2 separate regions of the Homo sapiens genome follow, and region 2 is linked to region 1. The links come from fine-mapping of genetic effects on gene expression. A gene starts in region 1. The other region holds a variant in brackets. All regions are shown on one strand. Distances are between the middles of the regions.

Region 1 (5,385 bases):
AACAGCCTTAATCCCTTGTTGGGCCAAGGGAAAACTTTTCCATTGTTCTCTGAAGGTTTGCTAAAAAAAAAATTACTGTCAAGAGGCAGATCAATAGAAGAAAAGGCATACACATTTATTTGATCATAATTTTACACAACCCGAGAGCCTTTAGAACAAAGACCCAAAGTTACAAAAGAAATTGTCCATTTTTATGCTTAGGTTCAACAAAGTGTGGGCAGGTGTGGAGAAATACAACTGGACAAAAGGAATATGATCTCATGCTAACAGACTGAGTGGGGACGCCTGGCAAGGTGAGATTCTTCCTGGTATCTCTGTGCAGTACTCATTCCTTCTGGGTATGGGGCAGGACCTTCTTTGGAATGGGGTCTTATGAGCTACGATCAAACAAGGTAGGTCAGATAATGTCTTTATGGCCAGATTTCACACAGAAAGTTGAGGTGTTAGAGTGATATGCTTAGGTTTTATGGCTGGTTTGGGAAAAAGGGTTCTGGTTTCTAGGAGCCACCTTGGGAAAGAGGGATTCTAGTTTCTATGCCTCGCCTTGGGGGAGAATGAAGGGCCGGAGACTGGAGAGCAGGAGAAGGTCAGAGAGAGCTGATTCTGAGGTCTTCATTTGGGGTATCATTTTTCTGAGCCCCTACACCCTAATAAAGCACAAGAGATGCAGTGGAGCAATTCAGGGTCACGGTCAGGCTATGCATTGAACTGAGATTTCCCAAAAAGTCTACTGAACAGTAAAAAGAAAGTAAAATGGATCCTGGGGACACCAGACAGAGGCTGACAAATGATTTTTAAGTAAGGAGAAAATGATAAAAGAGAAGGATTAGCAATAGAAACGGGTCATATAAAATAGATCCCTCAAAAGGAATTCTCTTAATCCCTAGCTTCTCTAGATATCCCACAACCTCAGGGACTTATCAGGCAGGTTGTTTTTCCCTGAAAGTGGGGGTAAGGGAGCTGGAGGACAAATGAAGGTGGTATGTGGAGGGAAGGCTGTTCTGTGGATGAGTTTAATTCAGCCCCACAATCACTTCTGTACAGCTACCCACCGCTCTAGTCATTCCCACATTTGGCCTGCTTTCTTTTCCTCTGTGGACAGGGGCACTGTTCTCTACTAATATCCATCTCAGAGAGATACAGGGGCAAGTATCCCTCAGCATCCATTAGAAATAAAGCAGGCTCTTGCTTAAAGTTACCAGAGCATCCACCTCTGGGTGCAAAGACAAATTCTCTGAATCAAGTGAGGGGTCTGGGCAATGATCTCACAAGGATTTGATACCTAGGAGTCCCCCCATGCCCATACAAGCTCCTCATCTTTCCACTTACACTTTGGGAAGCTGGCTGTCGTGTACAGGCAGATGAAGCTGGAAAAGAGAGGCATATTCAGTACTCACGAATTCAAACAGCTTGAGGGATTTCCGGTGAAAGTCAGTCCTAACCAGTGTATACGTACATACACACCAACATGTGTGAATGTGTTGTGTGCACGTGTGTGCCTGTACAAGTCCACATGGCATATTTACCTGTCAGGGACAGGCTATGGACAATGACTGTTTCTTGGACTTTCTCTTAAAAAGTCAGATCAGACAAGTTTATTTTGTATACTTTGGGTAAATGTGTGGTATTTCGTGAGTTTGGCAGTTTGTGAAAAAAAAAAAAAAAAAAAAAAAAAAAAAAAGCTGCCTGCTCTGAGCCCATGGGGCAGGGGCAATTTTTTCATCTGACAATCTGCGTGCTTTTGTTTTGCTTGCTTATTTTGGCCCCACAATACCACACCCTTTTCTTAACTAACCTCTTTCTACCTGGGCTGGACGTGCCTGGGCTCTCCTCCCTGGCCCCGCTCCCACCTCTCCCAGGTCTCTAAACCCCTAGAGAACCTGTGTCAGTGTTTTGAATCCCTCAGTTGCTCTAGCAGGAAAACTAGACAGATTAGGAGCTGGGGCACATTTGGCTGAAAGACAGCTCTTCGCTTTCTTCTTATGCTGCTTCCCCTTCCTCTTTTCCCAAATAGATATATAAACACATGTATTTTCCTGTTTAAATTGAGCGAATTGGTCCCCTGCCTGTGCCTTGATTTAGCCATTGGGCTCAGCCTTGCTCCTCCCTTCCTTACTCGGATAGGAGCCACTGGGATCTGGAGCTCCAGCTTCCAAATTGAAGCTGGCCTCAGGCCAGGTGACCTTTTCTTTGTAAGTTTCTTTCCTAAGCGTGGGGTTGGGGGGAGGCGGGGAATGGGGGGGGTTGCAGGGATCTGTTTGGTGCTGTTGAAGGGGGGGCGAGTGAGGAAAGGAGGGGGCTGGAAGAGAGTAAAGGGCTGTTGTTAAACAGTTTCTTACCGTAAGAGGGAGTTCAGACCTAGATCTTTCCAGTTAATCACACAACAAACTTAGCTCATCGCAATAAAAAGCAGCTCAGAGCCGACTGGCTCTTTTAGGCACTGACTCCGAACAGGATTCTTTCACCCAGGCATCTCCTCCAGAGGGATCCGCCAGCCCGTCCAGCAGCACCATGTGGGTGACCAAACTCCTGCCAGCCCTGCTGCTGCAGCATGTCCTCCTGCATCTCCTCCTGCTCCCCATCGCCATCCCCTATGCAGGTTAGTTCCCTTCTTCTTCTTCATTATTAGTATTAGTATTTAACTCTCCTGCTAACCTTCCCTATTCCTTTTAACACCCTCTTTTTACCCTATTCCCAGCATCCTTTCTGAACTCAGTATGTAGTATAGGTTTCTAAAAGCTCTCATTATGCTTTTTTTGACATTCTTTTTTGTTGTTGTTTGAATAGCATTTAAAATGATAATTAACTTTCCCTCAACTCCCCTCCACCTCCAACCCAAGCCCCGTCCCACTTAGCCTAATAGTTGTGGATTATGAGATAGGGAGGAAGTGCTAATACTGGCTGAACTTGGCTGCTTTGGACAAGTTTAAAGCTAAAGAGAGGGTCTGGTCTGAAGAGGCAAGAGTGATGGTCAGTCCGGCAGGAAGTCATCCTTTTCCAGAGAACAATTTTTCATGATAATGCACTACTCCACATCACCTAGTCAACATTTGGAGCCAAATTACGACTTTGTACAGGTTTTCATTTTGAGGAGGCAGAATAAACTCTGAGTATTTGCATATCATAAAAATGAAAGAGAAAGCCTCTTTTTAAAGATCTTATTCTTTCTGGGTACGGATGCCTGCCCTTTGAAACTGCAGTGCACGGAGACTTTGATTAAAGCTGCAGAACTGCCCATCTCTGTCTCCCACTTTCTCCCTTGGATTTGCCGTTTGGGGAGGAGTTGCTTGAAAGTTCATATTGCTTGGAGATTTAGAGATCTCGTTTGCTGCTCTGGGAAGTTTCTCTTGTTATCAGGGCAAGAGGAAACATCTGTATTTTGTTGTATCATTGTAGAGGCTGAGGTGCCAACGGGAGAAGGCAGTGAATATCAAGGGTAGGCGCAGGGGAATAAAAGAGTGGGAACAAATGCCCAGATGGAGACATGGCCTTTTTACAATATAAAAAAGAGAACTGGCTGTATCTTTTGAGATGGTAAATATGACATTTATCAGACCTTTGATCTAGTTTTTGATATGGTACAAGGGTTAAAAAACTCAAGAATTTTCTAAATGCAAAGGAAAATCATTCAACCCACCTGGTTTTCTTTTATTTTGTGAAGTGGCCCGTTTGGAAAATGACACTGTTTGGAAAGGGTCACTCTGAAAGCATTTAGGTAAGATTTCTGAAGAAGTGAAAAAGCAGTGAGTTCAAATCAAGCAGGTTATCATGCTTGACATGTGTCATGTTAAAATCGCTTCACAGGGTCGGGTGCGGTGGCTCACGCCTGTAATCCCAGCACTTTGGGAGGCCGAGGCGGGCAGATCACGAGGTCAGGAGATTGAGACCATCCTAGCTAACAAGGTGAAACCCTGTCTCTACTAAAAATACAAAAAATTAGCCAGGCGTGGTGGCAGGCACCTGTAGTCCCACCTACTTGGGAGGCTGAGGCAGGAGACTCTCTTGAACCTGGGAGGTGGGGGTTGCAGTGAGCCGAGATTGTGTCACCGCACTTCAGCCTGGGGAACGGAGCAAGACTCCATCTCAAGAAGAAGAAGAAAAAAATGCTTCACAGATGACTGCTGGTTTAGGGGATTTTGAGCTTAAATTGAAATAATGGCTAATATTTTGAGGGTTTTCATTTTTAAAGATTAAAATGTCACTGTTCTTAAGTAGAATCTGGTTACCTGAATTCATCTGTGCTAACGCAAGGGGAACGCAGTGTGGAAAACCCAAACAGTAGATCAACCGTAGGCAGTGTCTATTTGTTTTCGGCATGCATTATGAACTTTTGGCAGGAGACATACATTTGTAATTATATTTCACTTTGCCTAATGTAGAAATGACTGTGTTTCCTGAGTACAGGCAGAATGCAGCCCAAGAGTGCTGGCAGGCAAGGAGAGTCCAGTTGGGAATTACAAATATGCTGTGAATAATTCCTGAAGTGGATAATTCTAAAATTGTCATCAAAGGAGGGTGCGCCTTTGTTTAGATGGCCAGTTTGATAGTTTTTTTTAATAACCTTTAAAATAAAAAATATGGGTAGCCTCTTAGAACACACAAAGTTTGTTCTTTTTTAAATGACATTTAATATTGACTATTTAGAGGTTTCTTTTGTTGTTACTAGCTTTGATTATAATTATTTATTCTATGAATTTATATTTGTATGTATTGTAAAATAACACATTGTTAGGAAAGAAGTATATACTGTAAGTTGACAACCAGTTATCAACAGAATACACTATGGAGATACTTTTTTAAAAGCTTAAGAAATATTCAATATAATGGGCCCCCGCCATCTTTGTAGGAGTTAGCCTATATAGAATTACCCTCTATTCACTCCCACCTACATGGGAAACAAATATCCAATCCTCTGTAATAAAAGAAGCATTAAATGAGCACCTAATATTCAAGAGTATGTGGGGGATGTAAAGATGAACAAATAAGAAAGGAACTTAAATTTGTTGAGCAACTGATATGAACCAAGTAGTAAAGTACATCTCACTTAATTCTAATAAGATTGGCACTATTGGACTCATTTAGCCGGTTCAAAGACCTCAGTTATCTTATTTCTTTGTGAGTTAAGGGACAGAGCTGAGATTTCTACCCAAATGTATGTGAATGAACTATGTGGTGTTTTTTTTTTTTCTTTTTTCATTTATATTGAAGCGAGCAGCAGTGAAATCAACTGAAATTTACTTAAAAAAAATCATTTGGCCAAGTGATATATTTTCAAAAAACCCTGTTAGAAATACTTTGTACTATGGTTGAGAGTTCATTTTCAGCATAGAGAATCAAACCAGGTGAAGGGGTTATATGGTACTGAAGTCCATATGAAAAGATGGA
Region 2 (5,385 bases), 25 kb after region 1:
GGTTCACGCCATTCTCCTGCATCAGCCTCCCGAGTAGCTGGGACTACAGGTGCCCACCACCACACCTGATTAATTTTTTTATATTTTTAGTAGAGACGGGGTTTCACCGTGTTAGCCAGGATGGTCTCGATCTCCTGACCTCGTGATCCGCCCATCTTGGCCTCCCAAAGTGCTGGGATTACAGGCGTGAGCCACCGTGCCTGGCCAGAACTTTTATAATAGATCCTGTTATCTAGAAAGTTGCAGAGCAAAGTGAGGTCCAAGTACCAGCAACAGCAGCAATGCCTGGGAGCTTGTTATTAGTGCCCCAGCCCAGACCCACTGACTCAGAACTTGCCTCTTAACAGGATCTCAAGGAGGTTTTTGCACACATTCATATTTGAACAAGCATTGATCTGCCACACTCATAATGGAAAGTGGTCATCTTATGGAACCATCTGTTTCATTCATGTAGCTATTTTTTCTTAAAACCATTAAAATGTGTAAGTCAAGGAAAAATTTTTATAATACTGCTCAATGTAGTGATTACCAGAAAATAATTCTATTCACCCTCGTTAGAAAGGAATATACTATCACAAGCTGCATTTGCTGAAGGAGGCATAATAGATGTAATCTCTTTCCTGAGTACTATACAAGAGTAGAAATTGTACATATGAATACTTATCTTTTATGTGTGACCCTAGTACTCTATTGTACATTTCATCCAACACGAAGGAACAAATAACGATAAATGCTGCATCATTTTCTTTGACGGTATCAAAATTTGTGTTCTTTAAAAAAAGAGAGAGATACCTAAATGAACCTGTTAAGCATTCAAATGGAAAGCTGAAATGTAACATTGCATCACCTATGTTGAGCACTGCTATGACCCTGGCCAACCTGAGCACCTTTATTGATATGCTCATGGACTCCACTCATTTACAGTTCAGGTGCTTATTGGGTGTAGTCTGGAAAATCTCAGTATCAAATGAAGGGAAGCCGAGTTGGCCTCTTAGCTAATGTATTAATATAAATGAAGGAAAGCAGATGGATCAAGCCAAGTTGTTGCATGTTTCAGAAAGTTAATAGTTAATGTCCCTATTAGATTATAAGAATCAAGGATTCAAAAGTGATGATTCTAATACTATAATCCCAAATTACTACAAATACTCATTAGGCTAGATTCCGTTGGATAAAACTAAACATTGATGCCTCTTCCCACTTCAGCTAAAGTTAGATGATCAGTAATTGCAAGATACAAATGATGTGTTTAAGGAAGTTTGCCTGATTCATAGGAAAGCCAAGCAATGATTTATTCCACAGGATGCTTTCTGTGCTACAAATCAACCTGTCTGTTTGAGAAGTCTCACTTTCAGCAATTGATGTGATTCAGTTTTCTGTGTGACATAAGAGGCCAGCCAGAAGAGAACAATGAATTAACCTCACAAAATCATCAGTAAGAGCCTACCTAATTACATTAGCTTATACATTTTAAAAAGAGTGGGAACATGGAGTTCAATAGCAGGTCATCTTCTATCCTAAGCCAGACAGGAATGTAAACCTGCCCAGCTTATTCAACATGGATGTTCGCTAACAGAAAGGAGCTGTGATTTATTTTTTAAAAATATCCGTATTCTTTGAATTGCACCAGATTTCTATATGAAGCCAGTCTCTTAAATCTATGTGGTCTTGATTATGTCATTAACCATAAAAGTATGACACAAACTCAATTAAACTTTGTATTTCCTGTGTATGTATTTGGAGGGCAAATTGAGAGAGAAACACTATTGTGCTGACAAATAGATACTGAGATCTTTGCATTTTAGACCAACACGGGAAAAATTTCCAAGGATCTGTCTTTTATTTCCATTTTCTAGATACCTTTGAGACAGTTATTGAAAAAATAGATAGACAGCGTCGTGGCCCTATAGTAAATCTGTGTGACACTAAGTACAAAAATCCCACTTAAACTGTATGATGTGTTCTATAGGGAGTAGTTTATGTCACTATTTATAGACATTAGGCCCTAATAAAAAGTTAGAATGATGTGTAGGATTTTTTAAAAATCTGTTTACTAAACAGGTGCTGTTCTTTAAATGCAACAGTGGTGTTTTTGATTTTGCTGTCAGAAACAATTAACATGCCATACTTTAATTTTATTAGTTGAATGCATGACCTGCAATGGGGAGAGTTATCGAGGTCTCATGGATCATACAGAATCAGGCAAGATTTGTCAGCGCTGGGATCATCAGACACCACACCGGCACAAATTCTTGCCTGAAAGGTAAAATATTAATGAATCATGCTTTCAGTGATTCTTTTACAAACTATTATTCACTCTATGACACACTGCTGTGGAAATTCTCTTTATATTATGTTTTCCCGATAGGACATGAACATAACATTTAGAACTCCCAGAATGTTCAGGAGTTCTTCTGACAGAATTTCTGGCCATTATATTTGGAGGAAATAGTCTAAGGGCAAAAAGATTTATGATGAGGTACATGAGAACACTGACTACATAGCCAACTGGTCAGAGTTTCTAAAATCAGCATGGTACTGAACACAAAATCATCAGCAGGGTATAGAGTGGAAGCACAAAAAGAAGCTTCTTTCTCTCTCAGAGCAGAAACAAAACAAAACCAAAGCAAACCACAGGACCAATTCAGTAATGACCACTTTGACAAGTCTTAGCTGTGATTAGAGGTATTGTTACTAATTGCAGGCAAATCTCCTTCTGGAGCAGCATCTTCAGAGACTCAGGTACTGCAGGCCACACACATAACAGCATGACATAAGTAGTGGTCATAGGGAGTAAAAAGTAGAGCAAACCATTCAGGTTGCTTTGTCCTGGTGTGTTTTGAAATTGCCCATATAAAAAGCCAATTTGGAGAAGTCAGGCAACTAATCTATCTTTTATCCCCAGGAATAGGTTTTGAGCTTAAATTATTACCCATCTCCGCCAAAAAAAAAAAAAAAATCATGTCTACTTTTGCCCATGTATTTTACATGAAACTTTTAAGGTGGAAAAAAAAGGAAGAAGTTCATTTATTTTGATTATAAAGAATAAAAATACAAATAATTA[C/T]ACAGGAAATTCCGTCCCCCACCTTTCTTTGGAAATTGCTGTTAGGTGTTTTTTCTTTGTTCTTTTTCTCTATTCTTTTTTGTTTGGTGTTATTTTTAATGAAATTAAAACTCCAGCTTATTTTCCAAATAAATGCTTGTCTTGTCGTTTAAGTGAGAGCAGAAGGGATATGGTAGCAATTAAAATCAAGTCACCAATTCAGGACTCTGTTCATTTGAAGGGAGGTGGGGTGTGGAGAAAGTAGTGTGATGAAGTTTGTCTCATGATCTGGTGAAGGTGAGGGCATGACCTCGAAGGGCTCTATTTCCAAAACTGAGTTATCATTAGTAACAGCGCTATTGAAACTGAACTTTCAGTTTGAACTTTAAGCCTTCCCTAGAAGAGGACCTGTTTTCTTAATGAGCATTCTACATGAAGTCATGTTTTTGTAATCTGCCCTTAAGTGGGTTCTAAGAGAAAGAGACTCGATTTGGAACCTCAGCTAGTGGAAAGGTACCACATAGACCTAACTTATTAGCCAGGGGATGATACTCTGTCCTTAGTGGGATATATAAATTAGTAGATTCAATAGTCAGTGATCAGCAGTCCTCGTAAGGCAAAACATAGAAAACGTCCTCTTTCCCCAGCTAGGTGTAGACAACCTAAGTGGAAAGTTATTTTGTGAGCTGAGGGGTGGGTGGTGTTTCCAGGCAGATTTACGTGACACTTTTCTTGGTGTGGTTTGCAGATATCCCGACAAGGGCTTTGATGATAATTATTGCCGCAATCCCGATGGCCAGCCGAGGCCATGGTGCTATACTCTTGACCCTCACACCCGCTGGGAGTACTGTGCAATTAAAACATGCGGTAAGTGAAGGTCAAATTTATTGCTTCCTTTTCCTCTCACAGACTGGATCTAAGCAGGCGATTATTAGTGAGACAGGTTAACAACTATTTAACTTGATGCTTTAATGTGTGCAGGTTTTAATATTTTAAGAATGTGTTACATAATCCTACCCAATCTTTTGCATTTTTGGAGACTGATTATTTTGACTGTGATAAATATGCAAATACACACATCCATAGAAAACATTTTTACTTATGGCAAGAGCCTAAACATTCTAATGTTATCAAGAAAATTTAAAAAACCACAGAGAGAGAAAAAGATCGGAAATGTGTGCAGCATCACAAAGTCATTAGGGGAGTAAAAGCTAGGACCTTAGTTCCTTACCTTCCAATCCTGTATCCTTTACCTACCTTTCCTCCCCAGAGACATAACATGGGCTCTCAACTGATGGTGAACTTCTTCTGGTGAGTGACAGAGGCTGCAGTGAAGAATAATGAGTCTAATAGAAGTTTATCACAGATGTCTCTAATCTTTATAGCTGATCCCTACCTCTCTCGCTGTCTTTGTACCCAGCCTGCATTCTGTTTCGATCTGTCTTTTAGCAGTCCATACAATCATTTTTCTACATGCTGGCCCTTACCTAGCTTTTCTGAATTTACAATAAAAACTATTTTTTAACGTGTTTTATATTGTTCCTTTCAATCTGTGAACTTGGTCCTCTCCTCTATGGTTAAGTCACACATTTTCACTGTTCTCTTAAACAATATTACATAATGTTTTCATTTCTTTGAATACAGGGCTAATTTTTTTCAACTGGATATTAAAATTCTTTAAAATCAATAGAATTGCATAAATTTAGTAAGGTATAATAATGTTATAAATTGGCCTGATAATATAAAGTTATGTATATATGGACAGACATGTAAAGCTAAATAACCTACATAAGATCAGGCACCAGCACCTAGAGTAAAATATATAATTAAGAGGGCATGGATTGATTTTCATATATTTCACTATAGCAGAATGATGGGGAAGTTCCTCTGAACAAACCTAACTGAATATTATCCACACTATGGTACTGCCGAGGTAAATCTCTCTCAATCTAGACCTGCTAATAAAAGGAAATGTTTTGGACAACTCTTAATACTTTGGACAACAATAAATAACTGAAGAATCTGGAAGCCTTTCAGAGTAAAACACTGTGTTCCAAGGAAATTGAATCATGTGTTTTGTCCTTTAAAATAAAAGATGACTCCTGTGACAGTGTTTCTCTGCATAGATTGGGTTGGTTCCACTCATTGCTTTTTAAATTGTATTAGTCTTTCCATTGTTCTACACCAGTTAGGTATAATAAACCAACTGTTTCCCTTCTGATTTTTTGTGTGTGTATGTATGTGTGGTTTAGGTACTCTTTTTTTTTTTTTTTTTTTTTTTGAGATGGAGTTTCACTCTTGTTGTCCAAGCTGGAGTGCAATGGCACAATCTCAGCTCGCCA

Evidence for each region. PIP is the estimated chance that this variant, and not a neighbour inherited with it, causes the effect.
Region 2: its variant is the best candidate, but not a certain one, in a credible set for the expression of HGF in whole blood (TOPMed, PIP 0.54).

Annotation. Positions count from the first base shown.
Region 1 is chr7:81,767,098-81,772,482 of GRCh38, reverse strand. It overlaps HGF (hepatocyte growth factor), which reads left to right and starts at 2,436. Exons shown (of 18, transcript NM_000601.6): 1 at 2,436-2,599. The coding sequence starts at 2,512.
Region 2 is chr7:81,741,878-81,747,262 of GRCh38, reverse strand. It overlaps HGF (hepatocyte growth factor), which reads left to right. Exons shown (of 18, transcript NM_000601.6): 6 at 2,143-2,263; 7 at 3,792-3,910. Among named protein-coding and RNA genes, the nearest start is that of HGF, 25 kb to the left of the region's middle. The variant C/T (reference allele first, on the strand shown) is at 3,065.